Regions from separate parts of the Homo sapiens genome. Here region 2 is linked to region 1. The links come from fine-mapping of genetic effects on gene expression. A gene starts in region 1. The other region holds a variant in brackets. All regions are shown on one strand. Distances are from middle to middle.

Region 1 (2,933 bases):
GAGATAACCATGTGGTTTTTGTCCTTGGTTCTGTTTATATGCTGTATTACGTTTATTGATTTTTGTATGTTGAACCAGCCTTGCATCCCAGGGATGAAGCCCACTTGATCATGGTGGATAAGCTTTTTGATGTGCTGCTGGATTTGGTTTGCCAGTATTTTATTGAGGATTTTTGCATCGATGTTCATCAGGGATATTGGTCTAAAATTCTTTTTCTGTTGTGTCTCTGCCAGGCATTGATATCAGGATGATGATGGCCTCATAAAATGAGTTAGGGAGGATTTCCTCTTTTTCTATTGATTGGAATAGTTTCAGAAGGAATGGTACCAGCTCCTCCTTGTACCTCTGGTAGAATTCGGCTGTGAATCCATCTGGTCCTGGCCTTTTTTTTGGTTGGTAGGTATAGCTTGATTTTGAGTTAGGAGTAAAATAAATCAGTTTTCCTGGGTACACTTCTGGGAAAAGACAAAACCAAGGTACTGTAATACAGCTGATGCTTGTCTCAGCCTCTTAAATGAATCACAGTGAATAGGAAACACTAGTAAGTTGTTGAAATTTATGTGATGTAGTCAGTAAGGAAAACACTAACTAAAGAGAACTTTAATATGGAAAAGTACATCTCTTCTGATCCCCAATCTGAAATTAACCAGTCTGAAATGTGTGTTAACCCAGAATAATGCCCTTTTCATATGACTGTGAAAAGGCTGTAAATATCATTACTATTTTTTTATTTCCTAAAATATATAGTATGATTCTTTTCCTGTAAAAAAGCAAAGTCGCAGTCAACAACAATTTTTAAAAACCCTCTCTATTACAGATATTTTCCTCAGGATATAGTATTTTTCTACATTGTATAATGATAGTTAACATAAAGGAACAGAGTCTGGGATAGGAGAGAGGCATTTTCATTTCTTTCCTTTATTTACTTTTAAAAAACAGGAAATCAGAGGTATGGCATAATTTTCCAAAATCTTTTAAAATTAAAATTAATGAATAAATATTACTTCTAATTAGTCAATGTTATAATTTGTTAAATAAATACTATCACAACCAATATGCCTAAAAGAAAGCAAACAAAAAATTGTCTGCTGTAGCTTAAATATCACCAAAACACATAGGACAGTTGGATATCCTTCTTTGAAAAAAAGATCAGAGCATATACAGTATAAGTTAATCCATAAAGCAGATAGTCACAATAAATAATAGAGGACAAGCTGCATTTTAAAAGGTAAATAAATGATGAATTCTTTTAATGGCCTGGTACACTGATAGAAATTGGAACGTTTCTAAGACCCTATTTTGTCCCCAGGATTTCCATTATAGGAATTGAATTTTTCAAAAGATATACAGAGAATTTTATTAATATGTTCCTGTCAAATTATCCCTTCAACATAAAATCATGTTTTTATAATAGCCATAAATTTGGAAATTTTTGTATTTTAATTTGCAATAATGCCACTTTATTTCTTGTGTAATCTGTTATCATAGCATGAATCACTCCCTGTTGAAAATTCTCAGAATTTCCTGGGAAAGGAATTGGACAGAAAATTAGTTTCCTATTTGGGAGAATTCTTAGAATTTAAATAAACCTATTGGTTGAACTGAAACCACAAAATTAGCATTTTCTAATTACCACATTTAAATAGCGTAAAGCAAAGAGATCGGCCATCATCTTGGTCATCAACACAACTTGCTTCTCTCCAGACTTGGGCTTAAGGTACTGCGTTTACATACAGCAAAATTGCTATCATTTTACATTATCTAATCTCTTTCTTCCACTGTTTACTAAGTATATTTGTACCATTTCCATATGTTTGCAAATATTAAAACTTCTTATGATTTTCTGGCACCTTAAAAATCCTTTTGCAAATTCTGATACCATTTTACAGCTTTAGGTGATGAATCAATACAGTTTTATAAAAATACCAAATCATTTTTTGATAATTTTGTAACTAAAATATATTTTTAAAGTTGATACATAATTTCAGTAGAGGCTTGGGGTAAGCTAATTTAAATTATTTTTACCTAATTCTATGAGAAGTTGTTATGCAAATAATTTCTTATTTTTGTAATTACCATAGCAAAAACCATTTCTAGCAGAATAGTTCAAGGCCATTTTTGTTTCATGTCATTTGGGCAACAAAATTAACTCTACAATGTGAATATCTATTATAGATAATTAGCTATTGATGGCTACTTTGTAATGATTATTAAATTTAGATATTCAGAAAGACACAAATAGTAAATTTATTTGGGTTCAAAAATATGCCTTTTTTATTAACACATTTAGATTCTAAAATTTGTAGACTGAAGCAATATATATAAATGTCAGCATTTGTATGTTGATTAAGGTGTGAACAAATAGTATGTGTGACCTGATTTTTTTTCTAATGATTTCTCTGGAAACCATTTTCCCAGTACATGTGGATGTCCATATTTCGGGGTTCTTGCAATTTAATGAAACTCTGGAAATCAAATATAAGACATGTCAATATTTTGATTCTATCCAATTCAATCATCTTTATATATTTATGTCATGAATATTCCAATGTAGCAAAACACGAAGTTATGGCTAGATTCTTTATTTAAAAATTGAAAGAGATCAATAGCTTTTACATAACGTGCAGACAGGATTTTTCATGAAGACTCTAAAAGAAAAGAATGCTCTCAAATAGATTTAAAAGAGAAGCTCATTTTCAAAACTTTTCAATAAAATTAAATTCCAGTTCTCAGTGGATTTAACTTTATTGCCCACTTTAGAAAATCTGATTTGTCATCTAGGAGGAAAAGTGTTTTCTTTTTTCAATTGTATTTCAATATTAGCACTTCTTTATTTCTCTAAGCCATATTATTACATTAAGAACAAAATGTTATGTTTTAAAGTGTTAGTGAAGAAAAATGTTTGTAAGAAATTAGTATTTCTAAATAATATA
Region 2 (2,933 bases), 250 kb before region 1:
ACAAAAGAGGGTGCCCAAAGTAACAACTGGACTTAATAAAGGGAGTTTACACAAAGGAGGATTGAAGGCTGTTGTGTGCTGGGGAACAGCACCAACGCCAATTGCAGGATCCCAGGTGTCTGCCTTCCCACTCTGATGATGACTCTTCCTGTGGTCTGGTGAGCTATGGTTACATGTTGTCTTCTTTTGCTGGTTCGTTTATACCTACTTAATGCTGCTTTTGCTGTGATATTTGCTTACAACTTTTACTCCAGGATGCTAGGCGTCTGCCTTCTGACTCCGGTGATGATTCTTCCTGTGGTCTGATGAGCTTCTGGTTACATTTTGTTGAGCTTTGGTTACACTTTTTTCTTCTCTTGTTACAAGGCTGTTTTTGTTGTGATATTTGCTCACAGTAATAAAGTTTTAGTTTTCCCATCCCCCTCACTTGAGTGCTCAGCTCATTCTTCCAACACTGTCTTGAAACAATCCTCAACATAATAAAAGCCATATATGACAGATATATTAGTATATTCTTGCATTTCTATACAGAACTACCTGAGACTGGGTAATTTATAAAGAAAGGAGGTTTAATTGGCTCATAGTTCTTCAGGCTGCATAGGAAGCACGGGTGGGGAAGCCTCAAGAAACTTACAATCATGGCAGAAGGTGAAGAGGAAGGAGGCATGTCTTCACATGGCAAGAGCAAGAGGAAGAGAGAGCAAAGCGGGAGGTACTCCACACTTTTAAACAACTACATCTAGTGCGAACTCACTCACTATCATGAGAACAGAAAGGAAGAAATCCACCCCCATGATCCAGTCAGCTCCCAACAGGCCCCTCCTGCAACACTGGGAATCACAATTAGGCATGAGATTTGGGCATGGACACGAATCCAAACAATATCAACAGACCCATATCTAGTATCATACTAAATGGGGAATAACCGAAAGCCTTTCCTCTAAGATCTGGAACATGACAAGGATGCCCACTGTCACCACTGTTATTCAACATAGTACTTGAAGTCCCAGCTGGGGCAATCAAACAAGAGAAAGATAAAGGACATGGAAATTGGAAAGGAAGAAGTCAAATTATCCTTGTTTGCAGATGATATGATAATATATTTGGAAAAACCTAAGGGCACCACTGAAAAACTACTAGACCTGATAAACAAATTTAGTAATGTTGCAGGATATAAAATCAACATACAAAAATCAGCAACATTTCTACATTCTGACAGCATACAATATGAAAAAGAAATAAAAAAGTAATAGCATTTACAATAGCTACACATAAAATTAAAAATGAAAAGATATTCCATGTTCATTCGTTGGAAGAATCAATATTGTTAAAATGTCCATATTACCCAAAGCAATCTACAGATTCGATGCAATCCCTATAAAAATACCAATGACATTCTTCACAGAAATAGAAAAAACAATCCTAAAATGTGTGTGGAACCACA[A/G]AAGACCCCAAATAGCCATAGGTATCCTAAGGAAAAAGACACAACTGGGGTAATCACATTCCCTGACTTCAAATTATATGACAGAGCTATAGTAACCAAAGCAGCATTGTACTCACATAAAAACAGACACAGAAACAAATGGAACAGAATAGAGAACCCAGAAACAAAAACCACACACGTACAGTGAACTCATTTTTGAGAAAGGTGCCAAGAATATACACTGGAAGAAAAGACAGTCTCTTCAATAAATAGTGCTGGGAATACTGGATATCCATATGCAGAAGAATGAAACTAGCTCCTATCTCTCACCAGCTACCAAAATCAAATTAAAATGAATTAAAGACTTATATCTAAGACCTCAATCTACGAAACTACTTCAAGAAAACATTTGGGAAAATTTCCAAGACATCGTTCTAGGCAAAAATTTATTGAGCAATTCCTTACAAGCATAGGCAAACAAAGCAAAGACAGAAGAACGGGATCACAAGTTAAAAAGCTTCTGCACATCAAAAAAATACAATTCACAAAGTAAGGAGAAAGCCCAAAGAAATGGAGAAAATATCTGTAAACTACCCATCTGACAAGGGCTTAATAACTAGAGTATATAAGGAGCTTGAACAATTCTATAGGGGAAAAAAATCTAATAATCCAGTCAAAAATGGGCAGAAGTAAGCATTTCTCAAAAGAAGAAATACAGATGGCAAACAGGCATATGAAAATGTGCTCAACATCATTGTTCATCAGAAAAATGTAAATCAAAACTGCAATGAGCTATCATCTCACCCCAGTTGAAATGGCTTATATCCAAAAGACAGACATTAATAATGATGCTGAGGATGTGGAGAAAAAGGAAATGATGGTGGAAATGTAAGTTAATACAACCACTATGGAGAACAGTTTGGAGGTTCCTCAGAAAACTAATAATTGAGGTACCATATGATCCAGCAATCTCACTGCTAGGTATATAGTGAGAAGAAAGGAAATTAGTGTATTGAAGAGATATCTGCATTCCTGTTTGTTGTAGCACTCTTCACAGTAGTCAAGATTTGGAAGCAACGTATGTGTCCATCAAGAGATAAATGGATAAAGAAAACGTGGTACATAATGCACAATGGAGTACCATTCAGCCATAAGAAAGAATAAGATTCTGTCATTTGCAACAACATTGGTGGAACTGAAGATAATTATTTTAAGTGAAATAAGACAGGCACAGAGAGACTAACGTCACATGTTCTCACTTATTTGTGGAATCCAAAAGTCAAAACAACTGAACTCATAGACATACAGAAGAAGGATGGTTTCCAGAGGCTGAGAATGGTAGTGAGGGGCTGGAGGGAGGAAGGAGGTGGAGATGGTTAATGTCTACAAAATAAATAGAAAGAATAAATAAGACCTACTGTTGATAGCAGAATAGGGTGACTATAGTGAATAATAATTGTACATTATAAAATAACTTAAAGATGTAATTGAGTTGTTTGTAACTCAAAGG

Direction of the effects. Positions count from the first base shown, and alleles are read on the strand shown. Sizes are in standard deviations (SD) of each study's normalised expression.
With allele G in place of A in region 2, the expression in fibroblasts of the gene that starts at base 1,668 in region 1 is higher (moderate effect, 0.42 SD a copy in GTEx).

Evidence for each region. PIP is the estimated chance that this variant, and not a neighbour inherited with it, causes the effect. A credible set is the group of variants that fine-mapping cannot tell apart.
Region 2: its variant is the best candidate, but not a certain one, in a credible set for the expression of CSN1S1 in fibroblasts (GTEx, PIP 0.86).

Annotation. Positions count from the first base shown.
Region 1 is chr4:69,929,401-69,932,333 of GRCh38, forward strand. CSN1S1 (casein alpha s1) reads left to right here and starts at 1,668. Exons shown (of 16, transcript NM_001890.2): 1 at 1,668-1,717.
Region 2 is chr4:69,674,556-69,677,488 of GRCh38, forward strand. No RefSeq gene overlaps it. Among named protein-coding and RNA genes, the nearest start is that of UGT2A1, 23 kb to the left of the region's middle. The variant A/G (reference allele first, on the strand shown) is at 1,445.